Linked DNA regions of Homo sapiens. The protein of the gene in region 4 purifies or fractionates together with the protein of the main gene of each other region. This does not show direct contact. Each region holds a gene or a part of one and is shown on either strand. Other genes may lie near its edges.

Evidence for each region. The genes of interacting proteins can lie anywhere in the genome.
Region 1: the proteins of CCDC88A (region 4) and QSER1 purify together in Homo sapiens (affinity purification with mass spectrometry, with the first as the bait; one large-scale study listed by BioGRID). This does not show direct contact.
Region 2: the proteins of CCDC88A (region 4) and PKM purify together in Homo sapiens (affinity purification with mass spectrometry; one large-scale study listed by BioGRID and IntAct). This does not show direct contact.
Region 3: the proteins of CCDC88A (region 4) and ANXA7 purify together in Homo sapiens (affinity purification with mass spectrometry, with the first as the bait; one large-scale study listed by BioGRID). This does not show direct contact.

Annotation. Positions count from the first base shown.
Region 1 is NC_000011.10:32,972,330-32,977,236, reverse strand, and holds part of QSER1 (glutamine and serine-rich protein 1), read right to left. Parts: intron 3,841-4,907; coding exon 3,688-3,840; intron 1,990-3,687; coding exon 1,894-1,989; coding exon of another isoform or gene 1,681-1,893; exon of another isoform or gene 1,607-1,680; intron 904-1,606; coding exon 763-903; 3' UTR 1-762. UniProt on the Homo sapiens protein: Plays an essential role in the protection and maintenance of transcriptional and developmental programs.
Region 2 is NC_000015.10:72,213,265-72,218,171, reverse strand, and holds part of PKM (pyruvate kinase PKM), read left to right. Parts: intron 1-671; coding exon 672-763; intron 764-4,907. UniProt on the Homo sapiens protein: Catalyzes the final rate-limiting step of glycolysis by mediating the transfer of a phosphoryl group from phosphoenolpyruvate (PEP) to ADP, generating ATP.
Region 3 is NC_000010.11:73,396,133-73,401,039, forward strand, and holds part of ANXA7 (annexin A7), read right to left. Parts: intron 4,726-4,907; 5' UTR 4,725-4,725; coding exon 4,671-4,724; intron 2,254-4,670; coding exon 2,049-2,253; intron 1,143-2,048; coding exon 1,032-1,142; intron 452-1,031; coding exon 387-451; intron 1-386. UniProt on the Homo sapiens protein: Calcium/phospholipid-binding protein which promotes membrane fusion and is involved in exocytosis.
Region 4 is NC_000002.12:55,293,321-55,298,227, forward strand, and holds part of CCDC88A (girdin), read right to left. Parts: intron 3,204-4,907; coding exon 2,938-3,203; intron 2,737-2,937; coding exon 2,277-2,736; intron 1-2,276. UniProt on the Homo sapiens protein: Bifunctional modulator of guanine nucleotide-binding proteins (G proteins). Acts as a non-receptor guanine nucleotide exchange factor which binds to and activates guanine nucleotide-binding protein G(i) alpha subunits.

The sequences.
Region 1 (4,907 bases), on a different chromosome or scaffold from region 4:
AACATTTTCCTTGTGAAAAATACAACTATCAGTGAAATAAAATGTACAATTGAAAATTTTCCAAAGGAAAAAACAGTATAAACGAAAATACTTTTCTTTGCGATAGGGAAAATAGTATGTCATTGTTTTTTTATCACAATATAATTTGACACAAAAAGCAGTCAGAGAATTGCACCAATTCCACATCCAGTTTCCTGAACATGTTAAGAGTAAAAGGAGTCTGTAAAGCAGAATAGTTTCCAAATTTTATATTTTAAATTGATGATATTCTTATACAGGATGTCACACCACACCAGACCTCTTTACATAATGTACAGTATTTCTGGTTTTGTGGCCAGATGTGAGTACAAACATATGGTTTCTGCCACTTCTCTGTCATTCTGGTGTTTAGCCGGAGTCAGAAAAAAAAAATCGTTACTTTAAGTGTTACTTCTCTAGCAATAAAAAAAAATTATACTTAGTGCATGCTTCATCATTTGTCAAAAAATGTTTCTGAAAATATGACTCAAGTTACCCAATGGTTTACAAAATAGAAAAATCATTCATTAGGGTAAAAATGTGGTGGGATTTAGGTCCATTTCCAGAGGACTAACTTCGTTCCTAAAGGCCGCACCACTGTCCTTCAGCAGAGGTGGTAATGACAGTTCCATGATGGAAGCGGCCGGCCTGCAGAAGGCCACTACTTGACATCTGATTATCTTTGACCACCCCATATCTGCCATTTCATTAGTGCTATAAAAAGATGGGATTTTTGTGGAAAAGTCAGGAACATTTCTGCTGTACATGATTTAGAAGTTCTCCAAATTTTTCAAAGAGGTCCTCCACCCATTTTACATTTTTCATACAAAGTTGAACAATTTCCTCCTGTCCTAAATCTTCATTTTTTTTCTGCACCGAAGAAATCTAAAAAAAGAAAATCGCCAAATTAGCTTATACTTATCACATCATATTTAAGTTCAACTACAAGTACTGGTATTTTATTTTTTTCTTAATCCTATCCATGGAGAATGATTATTTCAGCTAAATTTGGGTGAGATCTCATCCTCTCATCTTTGGCTCCAAGGTGGCAGAAAGGAAGGCTAGAAAAAGTACTTCAGACTTTCTCCATTTCTTCCAATTACGTTAAAAGTCAAATGACAAATTTTGGAGTCGATTCTGCATTTTAGAGCATTGTAAAAACAGTGAACCTATGTTGCATCACCATCTTTGCTTTCTCTTTTGCTATATAAAGGTTAGATTTATGAGCATCTTTCCATACCAGACTACTGTCAAACACATTAGATATAGCCTTGGACCCTTTATAATGAAAAGAAGTGATAGTGCTGGTCAAATAAGGTAGTATTGTCTACAACCATTTAGCATGGCTGTGGAAATTAATGCTTATATCCCATCCATGAGGTGATATTTTGTCATGTATAATCTCTGAACAACTTAAAAGCTACAATTAAATTTTAACTTTCAGTTTTTCATGCCAAGGCACAAAACCCCACTTCTCTGCAATTAAGTGGGATAAGGCCATTCTAAGTAATAAGTAAGGCAGTGAGATGTCAAAGCAGTGACTGAAGTGAATTAAAGCAAGATCATCATACACTGTGAGAGAACAAAATGCAATAAAACATCATTTATTATGGCGATGTAAAGCAAGCACCAACAGCTTCAAAACATTACCAATTATAGCTCCTACAAGAGGTGGTGAGGCTCGGGTAAATCTGAGCACAAAACATAGCAGAGAGACTCAGAACAATAAATCAAGTCATTATTTACAGAATACATAGACAAAATACATACACACATGTATTTCACAACTCTCTTTAAAACACTCCAAAATACTATGGCTAGAGTCTCCTTAACATTCTGAAAAACATTTTTTTTAAGTAAATGAGAAGAAATTACCTCATCCTTACATATCAGATAAACATGGTACTTATAATGATGGAGTGAATGATACAAAGAATACAACTGTATTTTCTCTGGATCGACAGCAAACTCCTATAAAAAGAAAAAAGTTTATAGATACATTTCATGGAGTATCTGAGCTAAGAACACTTTGAGGAAAATACTAGATCAAAAGTCTCAATGGCAATGTTGAAAATGACATATATGGGTAGGTATTCAGTTGGGTTAATATGGAGAGACTTATTCAAAATAAGAATTTAAATTATATTTTAAAATCTTATTCTTTATCCTGCATATAAATATGCATTATTGAAAAAACTTAAGCATTATAGGAAAATTTAAACAATAAACATATGAGATGATTTATAAAATAAAAGCTCCCTATAATCTCCTGCTTCAGAGCTAAACAAAGCTAATGGCATGTTATATATTTTTTAATGTTTTCCCCCAGGTATAACATGTATGTTAATAACACTAATTTTGTAATGAGAAGGGAATCACACTATACATATTGTCTAGCAACTTTTCTTCTTTCTTCCAACGTGTTTTTTGACCTAACTAATAATTGGCTATCTTTTCATTTAGTACATATAGCTGTCCCTCCCCATCCTCCCCAAATACAAACTATATGAGGGTAAGGACTTTTAACCAGTTTTCACTGTTGTATCTCTAGTACTTAGAACTGTACTTGGCATACTATAGGCACTCAAAAAAATTTTTCTGAAAGAATGAACAAATCTATCTCTTCTTTATAAAAAGCACGTAGTATGACATTACGTGGCTCTTCATTTATCTAACCTCACACTGGTGGTACATAATTGGATTGCTCTTACAAACAATTCCACAATGAGCAAAGGTATGTATTTTTATGCATTTCTGAATCTATTTCTACAGAATACTTTTTTTTTTTTTTTTGAGACAGTGTCTCATTCTGTCACCCAGGCTGGAGTGCAGGGGTGCAATCACAGCTCACTGCAGTCTCAATTCCCTGGACTCAAGCGATCCTCCCACTCAGCTTCTCAAGTAGCTAGGACTACAGGTGCATGGCACCATGCCTGGCTAATTTTTTTTTCTCCCCCCAGGGTAGACATGGGGCCTTGCTTTGTTGCCAAGACTGGTCTCGAACACCTGGACTCAAGTGATCCTCCTGCCTCAGCCTCCCAAAGTGCTGGGATTATAGGCTTGAGCCATTGTGCTTAGCCCTGAATACATTTTTGCTGTGAAGTTGATATGTTGCCAAACTGTTTTCTGAAAAGGTTATAACAATTTATACTATGTTTGAAGATGAACAAATTCCAATTTTAATGACTTTGCAGATATGAAATAAACATTTCATCTTTTTATGGAATGTGTTCTGCACACTTACTTATCTATGTGCATGCATATACAATTAAAAATATACCTATATTACAAGTAATGCATATGTTAATGAGTTTGAATTAGCCATTTCACAATGTACACACATTTCAAAACATTTTGTACATAATATATGCAATTTAAAAAATGAAAAACTACCTACAAATATATAAACATGAGCACGAGATGATTTCTTCCATATTAGTCAATTTAAGAAATTTGTGAGCACATATTATATGCCTGATACTGTGCTATAGAAAAACAATAAACCACCATGCGTCCCTGTTCCTCAGGCCAGTGACGCTTATTCCTACCTGAAAAACCTTCACACTTAATGACAACATAGTAAAATATTTGCTTGTTTCAATGTTTTAAGTAGGAATTGTATTAACAATTGGAAAAGGTATAGTTACATTAATAATCAATTACACTTACTTGTGCAGATTTGGTGGTTGTTTTAGAAGTCCTTAGAGTTTTCTTATTATAGGCTTTGCCATTCATTTTGATTTTAGAAATAGCAGTTCCTCCACTCTTTGCTTTAGAATCTCGAGTAATTATTGTTAGTTCAGGAAAACTTTCCAAAGCATTCTGGAAAACAATGAAGCAAAATAACTGACACCAGAAGAAAACTAACCTAAACTACTTCTAGCTATCTAAAATTTAGAAGTGTGTGTGCACACAAACACCTATTTGCAGAGAGGTGTGTGTGCACACAAACACCTATTTGCAGAGAGGTGTGTGTGTACTGATGGGATATGCATACATATACATACACAGGTTGGGGTTTAAACATGGTCATAAGCTCTTTGCAGCCCTTCCTATTGGATATGTAATCTATTTCCCTTAAATCCCTTAAATCTGAGCCAACTCTATGACCTGCTTATTTAAGCAACAGCACACCACACTGGGAACCCTTAACAGGGCCAAGAGTTCTTTCTAGTAATGTCTCTGGCTTCAAGGCAGGAGAAAGGAAGACATACATGTTTCACTAAAGCCCTACCACTTAAACCACTGCTTGCCCCGTGAAATGTGGCTGGGCCTTGCTATAAAGAAGTCATCTGCCTCTGGTGAAGATGACGACAGAGGAGAAGCGGCACTGTAGTGCTTCTCTGGCTTCACTCTTCTCTTGCTTATTTTGACTGCAAGACAAGTACTTGTAAGATAAGATCCTAAAACAGAGCATGATGGGTTTTTTGACAGTGGTTATGTGGCAAAACCAATTCCACTCCATCCTTTAAAAGCCACTGGTGGCCAGGAATGGTGGCTCATGCCTGTAATCCCAGCACTTTGGGAGGCCAAGGTGGGCAAATTACTTGAGGCCAGGAGTTCGAGACCAGCCTGACCAACATGGCAAAACCTTGTCTCTACTAAAAATACAAAAATTAGCTGGGTGAGGTGGTGCACACCTGTAATCCCAACTACTCAGGAGGCTGAGGTAAGAGAATCGCTTGAACTCGGGAGGCAGAGGTTGTACTGAGCTAATATCATGCCACTGCACTCCAGTCTGGGTGACAGAGAGAGACTCTATCTCTAAATAAATAAATAAATAAATAAATAAATAAATAAATAAATAAATAAGCCACTGGCCTATTTATGCCCTTACCTACTTGGCAAATCATTCTGCCTGACTGAAAAGCTACAAACAATAACTGAAT
Region 2 (4,907 bases), on a different chromosome or scaffold from region 4:
GCCTTGGCAACAAGAACGAAACTCTGCCTCAAAAAAAAAAGGAAGAAAAAAGAAAAAAACATCGCTAAGAGTAAATTTCAAATGTTCTCACCACAAAAATGTTAAGTATTTGAAGTCATGGATATGTTAACTAACCTGATTTAATTATTCCACATTGTATCCAAACTGTATGTATTGGATTACATAACTTTGTAACCCAAATTATAAATTACCAGTTTATAATAAAAAATAATTTGTTGCAAAAAGAATCCATATGGTTTAGGTTTTATGCTATAGGCAAAATTTAGAAGATGTTTTCCTTAGCAGGTCTTTGTAGGAGCAACTTAAAGACCTAGGAAAGATCTTTCTAACATGTTCTGTGCTACCAAGATTCTGTGGTTGGACATCTGGCTGGGTTTCAGTGAGGGTGGAGAAGGCTGGCCAAGTCTTAACCTAGGCTTTTCTGATACAGTGGGAGCCTGCAGAACTTGAAGGAAATGGTCGAAGTGTCCCAGTAGATCAAGAAAGTAAGCTGGCACGGTAGTAGCCTTCCATGCACTTTTTAAAGACTTTTGAGCTATTTGGGAGAGGAAAAGTTTTCAGGGAAAAAAATTCTTTAAACTTAAGCAAACTTAAATGTTTTTCCTTCTTTGAATAATTAATACTTGTGGCTTTAAAACTTTTCCTAATAGGCCCAGCTTCCCGATCAGTGGAGACGTTGAAGGAGATGATTAAGTCTGGAATGAATGTGGCTCGTCTGAACTTCTCTCATGGAACTCATGAGGTGAGCTGTGGCTGGACCCTATGGCCATTGTGATGGCCTGTAGGAAACAGGGAGGGGGTGCAGTGTTCGTTTAGCCACAGTGGACTAGACAAGGATGAGTCTGAGTTTCACAGTCAGTGTGAAGTTTGTCTTTACTAGCCCATCCCTACTCTCCTTCCCTCTTGTCCTGACAAAGCAACTGGCTGAGTCTCTTTTAGCAAAAAGGACCCCCTTTGTTGCTGGCTGTGGTTCTCCCACACACCTCTCCTACCCTTAGCTTTTACAAAGGAAGATATGGAAAGGTTCTACTGGAAAACCCTCTAAGCCTTAGGTGTCCTGGCCACAGCGCTTGACTCTCCTGTCCCAGGGTTTCTGCTTCACCTTGTGTTGCCATGGTAAACCATCTAGCAGATTGATTCTAGCTTAGAACCAAAATAACTGGGCAGGTCCATGAGAACGGTTTCCACTATTCTAAGTTTTGAGGGACTGAGCCTAATGCATAAGCACTATCTGGGGTGTAATACCCCACTTCCTCAGCACTGTATTCTCAGCCTGTGCCTTCCCAGGGGTTCTGGTACATTAAAATAACACCAGTTAGCACTCTTCCCCAGGAGCCTAGTAGGACTGTATTTGTGCTGGGCTCTTTATTAGCTGGCTTTACCTATGGACAGAGGCCTTGCCCAGGAGCCAGGTAGCAGCTGTTGGGATGGCTCCATTCCTGCCTCCATTGCCAGATTTAGAATTAACCCATTCTGAGGAGCTTGGGGTTCCCTGAGGTACCATGACTTATTTATTTTTTTATTTTATAAAACAAAATTTTGCTCTGTCATCCAGGCTGGACTGCAGTGGTATGATTATGGCTAACTGGATCCTTGACCTCCCAGGTTCAAGTGATCCTCTTGCCTCAGCCTCCCGAGTAGCTGGGAATACAGGCATGCACCACCACACCTGGCTAATTTAAAAATTTTTTTGGGGGAAATGAGGTCTCACTATATTGCCTTGGCTGGTCTCAAACTCCTGGGCTCAAGTGATTCTCTCAAATGTTGGGATTACAGGAATGAGCTACCATGCTCAGCCTGGGATTGTGCCTTTTTAAAACCTTCAGACTTAACCATAGGTTTCCCATAGATCATGGGATTTCGTAATGGCATTGATAAGAGGAATTACAGAAGAGGCAAACTTTGCACCTGTCTTGGCTTCTGTATTTCCTGTTGAGAGTAAAGAAAATGCTATCCTGTAAGGCCAATTGCCTTACAGAGGTTGCCCTCTGGCATTTGGAAGTTGGTATTAAGTTTGGACTAAAAATAAAGCCTCAGGAAATGCAATCCAAGAGTGAATTCCTCCTTTTGGGAAACACAAGACTCTTCATCATAGATTCCCTAACCTGTGTTCATAAACAGCCTATGGCCTGGCTAGTGGCTGGCCCTTAAATGTCATGGGGACCTGACCAAGTCCAGCAGACATACCATGTAGGTTAAGACATGTCCCTGTACCTTTTGGAAAATTCTGTAGTTTTCCAAAAGCAAGGGGTCCTTAGCAGGAGTCACCGAGAATTACTTGTTAGAGAATTAAGTGTTAGCTTAGCTTAGAGAGAGCTGAAGACAATGCTGGAGGTCTGTTCGCTGTTGATCCCTGCTGCTGTAGTCTGCCATGGGCTCCTGCATTCAGGGGAAGGAGCAGAAATAGATTTTTAAGAAGTTGACCTTTAAGTAGGCTTTATGGTTCCTTCATCCAGTAAAATAACACCACATAGCTCTAACATGGCAAGGGCGAGTGATACCTGCCACACCTGCTGGATGAGAGCTGGCTCCGATTTTGGTATTTTAAACTTTAAGAGGCTTTTGGAGATTATCTCTACTTTCACTCCTATTCCCAGATTATAATTAAGATTTATTTTTTATTTTTTATCTATTTATTTTTTAAAGATGTCCCTCTTGTGTGTTCATTTTGAAGTTTTAGACCAAGATGAGGTTGTGTGTGGGCTCAGCTTGGAAACTGATCTGAAATTATTCTAATTTATATAATGTAATGTAAACAGTTTCAGCCTTACCATACGTCAGGGCTATCGTTTCATGTGCACCTTTGACTAGGGGCTGGGGCGTACTTTTCCAGTTTCTGACTATTTTAAATGCTCTTCTGAGCAGAACGTTGAGATTACTGTCTTCCCTCTCACTCTGACAGAGGGACATCAAATGTCTGCATCTGATCTTTTAACAGCTTTTTTTTTTTGAGACAGAATCTTGCTCTGTTGCCCAGGCTGGAGTGCACTGGCACAATCTCTGCTCACCACAACCTCTGCCTCCCAGGTTCAAGCAATTCTCATACCTCAGCCTCCTGAGTAGCTGGGATTACAGACCTGTGCCACCACGCCCAGCTAATTTTTTTATATTTTTAGTAGAGACGGGGTTTCGCCATGTTGGCCAGGCTGGTCTTGAACTTGTGACCTCAGGTGATCCGACTGCCTCGGCCTCCTAAAGGCGTGAGCCACCACGCCCAGCCCTCTTTTAACAGCTTTGGCAACTAGTCTTCAGCCCTCACTTTTGGCAGTTCACATGGGCAAGATGCATTCTTGCTGAACATGTGGTTCCATATGCCATGTTTTCCAGATTTATTTATTTATTTATTTATTTATTTAGAGAGGGAGTCTCGCTCTGTCATCCAGGCTGGAGTGCAGTGGCACGATCTTGGCTCACTGCAACCTCTGCCTCCTGGGTTCAAGAGATTCTTCTGCCTCAGCCTCCTAAGTATCTGAGATTACAGGCACCTGCCACCACACCCGACTAATTTTTGTATTTTAGTAGAGACTTGGTTTCACCTTGTTGGCCAGGCTGATCTCGAATTCCTGACCTCAAGTGATCCATCCGCCTTGGCCTCCCAAATTGCTGGGATTACAGGCGTGAGCCACCACACCTGGCCTAGAAATAATGACTTTTAAACAACCTAAATGTAGAGCCTTCCACAGGACAGCATTGATGGATGCTTTACCACATAACATCCCAATAAAGCCACAGCTGAAGTGGAAGACTCAGTACACCTCCCAGAGATGCTCTAAGAGATTATGATATATGACATAGATTTGAATAATATACCTAATAATTGGTATGTTTATAATATATGGTTTTACATCCCCAAGACCAAAAATGCATGTTTGCATGAAACACTCATGGTTACAAAAATATATTAGGCCACCAAAAAAACCCCCACGTTTCATAAAGTAGAAATTATACAGACACATTCTCTGATAAAATTTTTTAGTGGAAATTAAGAACAAAGTCAAGAAAACTGAAGTGTGCTTACTTTAGAAAGCAAAGATCTCAAGGTAGATGAAATAAATATTTAACTCAGAACACTAGGGGAGGAAAACCCTAAAAAGGGTGAAGAAAATAATTTTGTAAGATTATAGCTCAATGAAATGAAAATAAATTTGACAGATTAAGCTAAGAGCTGATTCTTTGTGGGGAAAAAATAGTAAAATAGAAAGTTCTGAGAAGCCAGGTGAAGAATGCGAGGATGTGCAAATAAGAGTATGAATAGAAAAGAGAATATTTCCTACACATTGGAGATTTTAAAAGTCAAGAAAGACTTATAACTTAATTCCTATATAGAGAGATGACTCTGGCTATTTTCAAAGAAAAGATAAATATCCAAAAGATAGAAAATATGAATAGACCAGTGGCCATAAGAAGTTGAAAAAGTGGGCTGGGCGTGCGGTGGCTCACACCTGCAATCCCAGCACTTTGGGAGGCCAAGGCGGAGGGATCACTTGAGGTCAGGAGTTCGAGACCAGCCTGGCCAACATGGTGAAACCCTGTCTCTACTAAAAATACAAAAATTGGCTGGGCATGGTGGCACATGCCTGCAGTCCCAGCTACTCGGGAGCCTGAGGCAGGAGAATCGCTTGAACCTGAGAGGTGGAGGCTACAGTGAGCCAAGATCGCGCCACTGCACTCCAGCCAAAAAGTTGAAAAAGTGATTAAGATCTGGTTCACCTCAGAACACTTAAGTCCAAATGATTTTAGTGGCTGAATTGTCTCCCCTTCAAAGTTCAGTTACATTGTTAAACTGTTCCAGAGCCTAGAGAAATATAGAAATCTTCCCACTGTGTTCTTTGAAACCAATATACGCTGATACTGAGATCAAACAAGGACAGTACCAAAACCAGGCA
Region 3 (4,907 bases), on a different chromosome or scaffold from region 4:
AAAGGTAAAAATGGGAAACAAAACCACCCTACATAAATCACTGTCAGAAATACCAATCACCCAGCCACCCAAATTCATAGGTGTAACTGCTGGTAAGGGCAAGGAAGAGGAAAAAGAACTAAAACCAAGACCCCAGGTTAATCTCCAGGATAAAGTTGTGAGAATCATTACCTATGAGAATAGACCTATGCTTGTCTTCTCAAAGTCATCAGGACACTATTAAAGCAGATGGACCAAAGAAAGTATGGAGTCTATCAGAAGTAAAGACTTTAGTCTTCCATTACTATAATGGGCCATTTCCTCCGACCCATGGAAACCTCAGCAAAGGATAGGTTCCTTCTTTATCTAGCTACCTAGAGTGAGCTTAAAAGGTAGGAACAAAATACCTGACTAGGGTAAGTAGGTTGTCCTCCAGGATACTGAGAAGGCATCTGTCCTCCAGGAAAGCCACCTATAATGTTAAAAAAAATAATAATAATACGGCAACAGGTCTTACATGTTTTAATTTTTCAAAACAGCATTGATGACTATGAATATGGAAACATACAAGAACATTCACACTATGATACTTATGAGGATAGTTTTTAAAAATATAATTTACTGAATCTAAAACCAACTTTGGTCATAAGAACCTTTTTAATATTCCATGTTCTACATAAGATCCTCATAAATAATACTTTTTTCACACTTGAATCAGATTAAATTCTGAGTCCACCTGGAATGGTTGTCAGAATACAGTTCTGGGGGTGGTTTTACTATTGGTACAGGAGTGGGCAGAGAAGTTCCTGAAGGCTTCCTTTTGGCTTTGGGACAGATTTTTTTAATAGAAAAAGTGTGACTTTATCTCTATTTTACTGATTAAACTTTTCCATCAATTTAATATATTTCATAAAACCATTATGTTTAAAATTATTTATGGAAATATAAACATTTATTGCAGATTATCTCAAATATAAACTAAGTTCCCTCAATGGTGATTTAAAAACTCAAAATATCATGATACTGTTTTTTTCTGGACAGCTGGTACCTACCAGGTAGTGGAACCTGTGCTGGACCACCTCCATAAGACTGTGAAGGTGGCTGTGGATACCCAGAAAAGCCTGCTCCACCTGGTGGGACTCCAAATCCTTGGCCTGGAGGAACTAGAGAAAAGAACATGTCAATAAACTATAGTACAGTTCTCATGATTGCAGAAAAAACTTTAGAAAAATATCTATTGTTAACAGTGGAAAAATATGCTATTAATGCTATAATAGCAGTCCCTGTTTATCTAGATTCAAAACTTCAAATTCTCCAGTAAAAAATAAGTTTTTAAATTTTTACCTTATATATTTATTTATTTTTTGAGACAGTCTCACTCTGTTGCCTAGGCTGGAGTTTAGTGGCACAATCTTGGCTCACTGCAAACTCTACCTACCACGTTCAAGTGATTTTCCTGCCTCAGCCTCCCAGGTAGGTGGGATTACAGGCATGCACCACCACACCCAGCTAATTTTCATATTTTTAGTAGAGACAGGGTTTCACCATGTTGGCCAAGCTGGTCTCGAACTCCTTGCTTCAAGTGATCCACCCACCTCAACCTCCCAAAGTGTCGGGATTACAGGTGTGAGACACCACACCCAGCCAAAATATTACTTTATTACTCTTCCCTACTAACTTAAAATACAAAAGGGCTAAGGTTTTTTTGTTGTTTTTTGGGGTCTTTTTTACCTTTGAATAAAGCTGACCTAAAGGTCACAGTCTTGCTAATTGAAATGTCTTAATCAGGTCTTAAGACTACAAACAAGCAAAGTGTTACATATTGGTCCTTTATTGCCATGAAATTTATTCCAAGTCCCTTCACAGTGGAATTTTTGAAACTGCTCCCAGCTTTCATGTCCCCAGAGAATCTTCATCCCTCCATCTTGCCAGCTAGGTCCTTACTACCTAAGGTTACCTAAGAGCGACTTGACCTTATACAAAACAAGCAGGAATGAAGAGGATAAAGGGAGAAGGAAAAAGTGCTACAGCAATCCCAATCATTACTAATTCCGCAACCCGTAACTCACCTCCGGGATAGGATGGAGCTCCCCCTGGCTGTGGGGCACCAGGATAGCCTCCAGGGGCTGGATAACCTCCAGGCGCAGGGTAGCCTCCAGCTCCTGGGTAGCCACTACTTGGCACTTGTGGGTAGGCACCTCCTCCCATTGGAGGAAAGCCACTAGGATAAGGATACTGACCAGAAGGGGGAAAAGATGACTCCTGACCTGCAGGCTGAAAAATCAGAATAATTTTTAAACAAATACGATCATAGAGAAATATGACCCATCTAAAAATAAGGAACAAACAGAGGTTATTATTAAGGTCTACCTCATTCTTTTACTTTTTAAAAGTCCCATTAGAAATCCTGGTATCTTATACTAGTTTATCAGTATACCAGTTTGTAAGGACACTTGTTTGTCAGAATTCAGTTAAATTTAATTCTACTTGAGTCAGGCAAGAGGGGTCTGCTTCTCTATTTGGGAGTCAGAACAGGATTCTTTACAAACCTCAAGGTTTTAAGAAAAAAAAAAAACTCATCAGTTCCTTCATTTTCCCAGCATCTACAAATATGAGAAAGATCCTCCTCTATATCCTAAACAGAGGAATTTGAGGCTTTCTTGCAACACATCTGGATCTGTTACATAATATTTAAAAATAAAAAAGGTAACCTGTATATCACATCACACACCGGATGTGACATTTTGGACTTCATGGTTCAGAGCAGCAATATGCAGAGTGGCAGAGATTGTTGCATGTTCACTGAACTCTTTCTCCCCAGGCCACAAAGCTATACAGACTACACTTCCCAGACCCCCTTGCAGTTAGGTCGAACCACATGAATGAATATCAGTAAATGAACATAGACAAAAGTGAGATACACCACTTTCTAAACCTGTCCCCTAAAAACCTCTGGCAAATCCTCCATGCTCTCTCTCTTCCTTCATCTGCCACCCATAAGCAGAGGATCCAGTGGAGGACTCCAAAGTGCTAAAGGATGGTAGGATCAGAATAAGGAAGGAGCCTGGAAACCCAAAACACTGCATGAAACAAAGCCTCGTCCCACCCACCCCCTATCCTCCACTGACGTCCAGGAAACTGAAGAAAGAAATACATTTGTTTTTTCATCGTGTTAAGTCACTGAGATTTGGGAGTTGTCTGTTTTAGCAATTAGCCTACACTGACTGAAATAGTTACTACAGTCCTGTTTAATACATAGGGACTTGGGAACATATCCATAATTCTCATCTCTCCTATGATAAATTCACGAGAGCTATATAATCACTTTGCATAAGGATACATATTATCATAAACTTGTATAGACCCCTCTTCCTATTCTCCCAGGGTTAGATAGCAGCCCCACAGTTATGAGTATAAAACCAAAATGTGGGCTGGGCTAAGTGGCTCATGCCTGTAATCCCAGCGCTTTGGGAGGCCGAGGTGGGCGGATCACGAGGTCAGGAGATTGAGGCCATCCTGGCCAACATTGTGAAACCCCATCTCTACTAAAAATACAAAACCTAGCTGGGCGTGGTGGCACGTACCTGTAATCCCAGCTACTCAGGAGGCTGAGGCAGGAGAATCGCTTGAACCCCAGGAGACGGAGGTTGCAGTGAGTCGAGATCACACCACTGCACTCTAGCCTGGTGACAGAGCGAGACTCCATCTCAAAAACAAAAACAAAAACAAAAACAAAAAACTGAAATGTGGCCAGGCGCAATGGCTCATGCCTATAATCCCAGCACTTTGGGAGGCCAAGGAGGGCAGATCATTTGAGGTCAGGAGTTTGAGACAAGCCTGGCCAACATGGTGAAATTCCGTCTCTACTAAAAATACAAAAAATCAGCCAGGCACAGTGGCGGGCACCTGAAATCCTAGCTACTCGGGAGGCTGAGGCAGGAGAATCACTTGAACCCAGGAGGCATAAGTTGCAGTGAGCTGAGATCACACCACTGCACTCCAGCCTGGGCGCACAGCGAGACTCCATCTCAAAAACACAAACAAACAAACAAACAAAAACTGAAACGCACAATTCTTACTTATGGCTCAGCTCTTAGTCCTCAGAGTAGTATAGCTATCAACAAGGTGGAACTTAGTAGCACATTTATAAAACGTACTCCAAGTCTAAGAACTACAAATCCACTGCAATTTATCTCTGGGTCTAGCCAAGCCGTTAATTATTTTAAACATTCTAACACAAAGGTTAAGATGCAGTGATATTATGACTCAAGGGCATTAAAAAAAAGAAAAAGAACCAGTGATTCATGGGATGGATTTTGCTTACATCCATGTTTTACTGGCTCATACAGCAGTTAACATTTTTTAAAACTAACTCCTAAATTTTGAACCTTTGGGCAATTTCACATAGAACCCAAGTTTCTGGCTTTACTTGAAGGGCTGGAGTATCTAGCAACGCTGAGTGTGCCTCCCTCCATGGCTACACAGGGCTGGTGCTAAGCACCTGCCAGCTTTCAATAGACAAAGCAAGACCTCTCTAGTCCCCCACACAATTGCCTTTCCTCACTTCTACGTAGTACCTCTGAGCATCTGAATTTATGACCCCTGCTCAAGCATATCTGTAAGATCTGACATGGGCCAGTCCCAAACAACACCTGTTTTAAGGATGTGAGGTATTAAGTGGCAATACTTACAGGATATCCAGGGAAAGGTGGGTAGCCTGTTGGGGGATAGCCTGGGTATGACATTCTGTAACAACAATAAAAAATGTCCTCTGTAAGTTTTTTGTTGTTTTGTTTTGTTTTGTTTTGTTTTTTGAGACGGAGTCTCACTCTGTCACCAGGTTGGAGTGCAGTGGCGTGATTTTGGCTCACTGCAACCTCTGCCTCCGGGTTCAAGCGATTCTCCTGCCTCAGCCTCCCAAGTAGCTG
Region 4 (4,907 bases):
TACTGGCCTATGAAAAAACAAAAGGGAAAATATTAGCACCAAATATATTTGAAATGTCAGGACTGACTGGGAAGTAACTGACAATAAAATAGAAGGATGCAAAAAGTATATTAGGTGGTACTAAAATATGACAATCCTCTGATTGTGTTCATTTGATTACCTGTACCAGAACCATTTTTTTTTTTTTTTGTAATAGCTATCGGAAAAAAAGTGTGATTACAAAGGAGACAAATTTCATTAGGAAATATTCTCTACAGATTTTTTCTTTGGTCCAGTTAATAACCACTTAATACAACAACAACAACAACAAGTATAACATAATTTCATCCCCACATGGTCACATTTGAAGGCATTCCTTCCAGGTGCCAGGCTGAGTCCTTATCAGCTATAGGCTAAATCCAAATGGCAAAAAACATTCCAGAGAGAATGCCAATGTGTATTTCTCTGGAAGTAAATGGATCAGGGTTATGGGTTTTTTTGTTTTTAGCAATCTGGGAGTTAGAGATTCAAATTTAGCTAATTTGCTTTAAAAGTGCTGTGAACACAAAAATAAAAGTTCTTTGCACTGGAGTCAAAGTTAACAAATATTTTCTTACTTTTTTTTTTTTTTTTAAGCTAAAGAGTGTATTTATTCTTAGTTCTAAAATTTGTTCTACTAGAAACATACTTGTTTAAATGGTTACAAGTTCTAATTTTACATTTTAGTGTGATTATTCATTTAAAAAAAATTCTGTTTTAAGGATATACATGTATAATTTAATAATAGATTAATTATAGAAGTAACAATTTTTACCACTTTGTAAACTTGCTACCCTTTTTGATTAGAAGTAAAAATACAAATTTCCAACACAATGAATATAATTTGGTTTATTTCTCTTTGACTCTCTATAAAAAAAGAACTGGAAAAACTATTGTATTAACTGATTTCAAGTATAGAAGCCATCTTGAAGAAAAGACAGTTACTTGAGCTCTTGTATTTATCAGATGATGAAAAGTGCAGAGAAGAAACAATAAATACAAATGTTCCTAGTCACTGTGTAAATCACATTTAAATTTGATGGGGTTTTCTAAGAATAACACTAAGTTTATAAGTATTAACAATCTTTTAAATCTGAAAAATGTTTTATAAATATGGGTATTAGTTAATATTTGTTATATAAAGTGTTGAATTATTAACTATTTCTTTAAAACAGGACAGATGGCCTAATTAAATGACAAAAGAAAACAACATCTTTTTACATTTTCCCTACTGATACTGTACATATGTAATATAAAGTACACATTCTGGAAGAAAAAAAGGAGTGACAGTCAGAGCAAGTGAGGGGTGGGAAGAGGAGGAAGGGAGGGAGGAAATGAACATTTTTTTCCAGAAGCAACAAAGCAAATATGACTTGGAAATGTCTTCTTGGTAAGAGAGCATGCAACTGTTTTAACATGCTTCTGGATATCAAAGTAACAATCTTATCAGGCAACAAAAAATGTGAAGGAGGAGCATGTATGGTTAAGGTTTTTAAAGGCATGCAGAAAATGGACAAAGTAATTAATATTTCATGCAGGTTTTGGTGTGGTTACACATTCACATTAATATACATGCCATCATGTACAGCTGAACACTGTGCAACAATTTTAAATAAAAAATAAAAACCTAGCCAAATGATATTTTGTTAACAGCAACTTTTCAAATCATATTAGAGAAGCAGTGTATATCAAATAACATCAATATATTATATTGTGCAGTTTTGATCATATACAACCATATTCATACCAAACAGTTTGATTATCCTCAGAAACCAACAATGCAGCTTCTGTGTCATCAGGATAGAGGCATGCAGAAGTGACAAGATTGTTGCTATTTATAGAAAACTGTAGGTTACTGTTACTAGGGTTCTGATGATCAGAAAACTGTTCATTTTCTTTCTGTGCAGGTTTATCCAAAGAGGCAGAAGCCTGGTCAGTTATTCTGATAACTGGCCTAGGAGGTAACCCACTTATGTTACTAACTAATTCTGTATTCAGGGATAAGAATGGCTGAGATGAATGGGCCACAGTAAATGGTCCTATGCTATCTTTTGCCAACATTCCGAATGCATCACTAGGCATCCTAATAGTGGCAAAAGTTTGGTTTAGAAAATGTGACCTTCCTGTTCTTGAGTTTCTAGCCTGGGCATATAGAGGCTCAGGCATGTCTATAGCTAAATCATTTTGGGCACAAGAACCTATAGTATGTGTTGGGATGTCAAGTATATGAGAGGACCACTGGTGTAAATGGTACTCACTAGATGCTGCAGTGGTGTTGCTGTCAGCAGCAGCTGGTGGTGAATCAACTGATATAGGCAGTCTACTGTCCTTGGTCAAAAAATCATGGATGCTTGTCCTTCGTGTAGTTCCTTCGGCAGTTGAGATCACGCTGCTTGCACGAGGTAAAGTTGCATAAGGGTTACTATCTTTTGATTGTCGTGACAGAGAAGATTCTTTTACTAATTTTATTTTTCCTTGAGTGCCTGGTGTAGGTTTTCCCGCAGAACTAATGAAGTAGGTATCTTCAGTTTTTCGAGGACCAGGTCTCAAAAACTCAGGCTTAGTTGTCCGTCTATCATAGAAGTCCCCTGGGGTTTTTCCACTTACTGACCTGGCCAGACCACAGCTAACTGGTTTGTCTTTTCCCAAAAAGTCAGAAGAGACAGACAAACTTTTCATTACTTCATCTAAAAGATTCTCTTGACTTGAGGACTTTATCTGTTTAAAAAAAAATTCAAAGCAGATTAGTGAATATAGTGCCATGTTTTTACTTTCCTGATTTAGCAGACTGTGCAATATAAAATTGTGGTACCTCTTAATACTCCTTAACTTACCAAAAAAAAAAAGCTCTGAAGTTCAATTACAGAAATTTAACTTGTGGTGTTCATCTAAATTAAGGTCATCATAGATAAAACTAACCTGTACTGAGGTAAGCTTATTGCTTTCTTCCAAAAACTGTTGTAGAGTAACAACTTCACTTCCAGGGGAACCAGTTTTGATCTTGTGATGTCGACTCTCCAGTGTTTCAGATATTTTGTGCTGGAGCACTGGGCTTGATCTGGTCTGTCTTTTCAAGTACTGGATTGGACTGCTACCACTGCTGGACCAAGCCTCATGGTCATGAAGCAGGCTAAATTCTCCACTGCTGTGGCTTTGTGGCCTGCTTTGGTTATTAACTGCACCTGCTTTTGGAGTAAATGGGGTGTTGAGATTTCAATAATAGAATTGAGATTAATACTTCATGAGTAATAACATTTGTTGACTGTGTGCTAATTATATGAACAGCCAAATTTACTTTCAAGCTTTATTTAGAAATGCTTAGTAAACCATGTCAATCTTTTATCAGTCTAACAATTGTCTGCCATAGCCTGCTTCCTTATTTTGTCAAACTGACAACTATTGTAAGCTCCATAAGGGCAAAGACTTGCTTTTACTATCATACTCAGAGCCTAAACAGAGCCTCATACAAAGCATTCAATATATTTTTTGAGTAAATGAATGAATAAATAAGTGAATAATATATTTTTTAAAATTCAGGTTCAAATAGTTATAAAATGCCTTGCAGGCCAGGCGTGGTGGCTCACGCCTGTAATCCCAACACTTTGGAAGGCCGAAGCAGGCGGATCACGAGGTCAGGAGTTGGAGACCAGCGTGGCCAATATGGAGAAACCCCGTCTCTACTAAAAATACAAAAAATTTGCCAGGCGTGCTGGTGCACGCCTGTAGTCCCAGCTACTCAGGAGGCTGAGGCAGGAGAATTGCTTGATACTGGGGGGGTGGAGGTTGCAGTGAGCAGAGATCGCGCCACTGCACTCTGGCCTGAGACTCTGTCTCAACAATAAAAATAAATAAAATAAAATGCCTCACAATTTAGGATAAGAACATGATTAGACAAAATATATATATATATTTCATCTAATGTGTATTTTTATATATATTATATATAATATATATAATTTATATATAATTATATATAAATATATAATATATAATATATAAATTTATATATTATATATAAATATATATAATATATATTATATATAAATATATATTATATATAAATATACATATGTGTGTATTTTTTTTTTTTGAGATGGGGTCTCACTGTGTCACCCAGGCTGGAATGCAGTGGCACGATCTCAGCTCACTACAACCCCCGCCTCCTGGGTTCAAGTGATTCTCTTGCCTCTGCCTCCCAAGTAGCTGGGATTACAGGCATGCGCCCCCATGCCAGGCTAATTTTTGTACTTTTAGTAGAGACGGGGCTTCACCATGTTGGCCAGGTTGGTCTGTAACTCCTGACCTCAGGTGATCTGCCCACCTCGGCCTCACAAAGTGCTGGGATTACAGGTGTGAGCCACCGCACCTGGCTCATTAGGTGAATTTTATATTATTTCAGTATGTTAAGACCAAAAACTGTTCTAAATGCAGAAAATTCTATTTTAATTATTTGCTTATCTAAGAAGTCCTCATTACTACTTGAAGGCTTCTCTGTTCATCCTGCATGGATAACTTTAAACATTTAAAAAAATTTAAAGAGCATACACATAAGGAAAGTTAAATAAAGATATGAAGCAATTACTTACAACATTTCAGTAAAAGTATACAATCAAATATGTAGTGCTTTATTCTTTTTTAAATGTCTTGATCATCTTATTGTTCTTGCTGTCCACTGTTGATATGGTGCCTATATAACCTTAAAAGACTCAGTTGACATTAAGCAACTATATAAAATGAAAATTTGCTAGTTCTAGAATTAAACTCCCTCAAATCTATGGTGTTCCTTAAGAGTACGGATTTGTTTTGATCACGAACAAACTGTACATCAAAACAGAAAATGCAACTTTCCATTGTTTCCCAGTCACAGAGAGTAAAGTGGGCCACGAAAG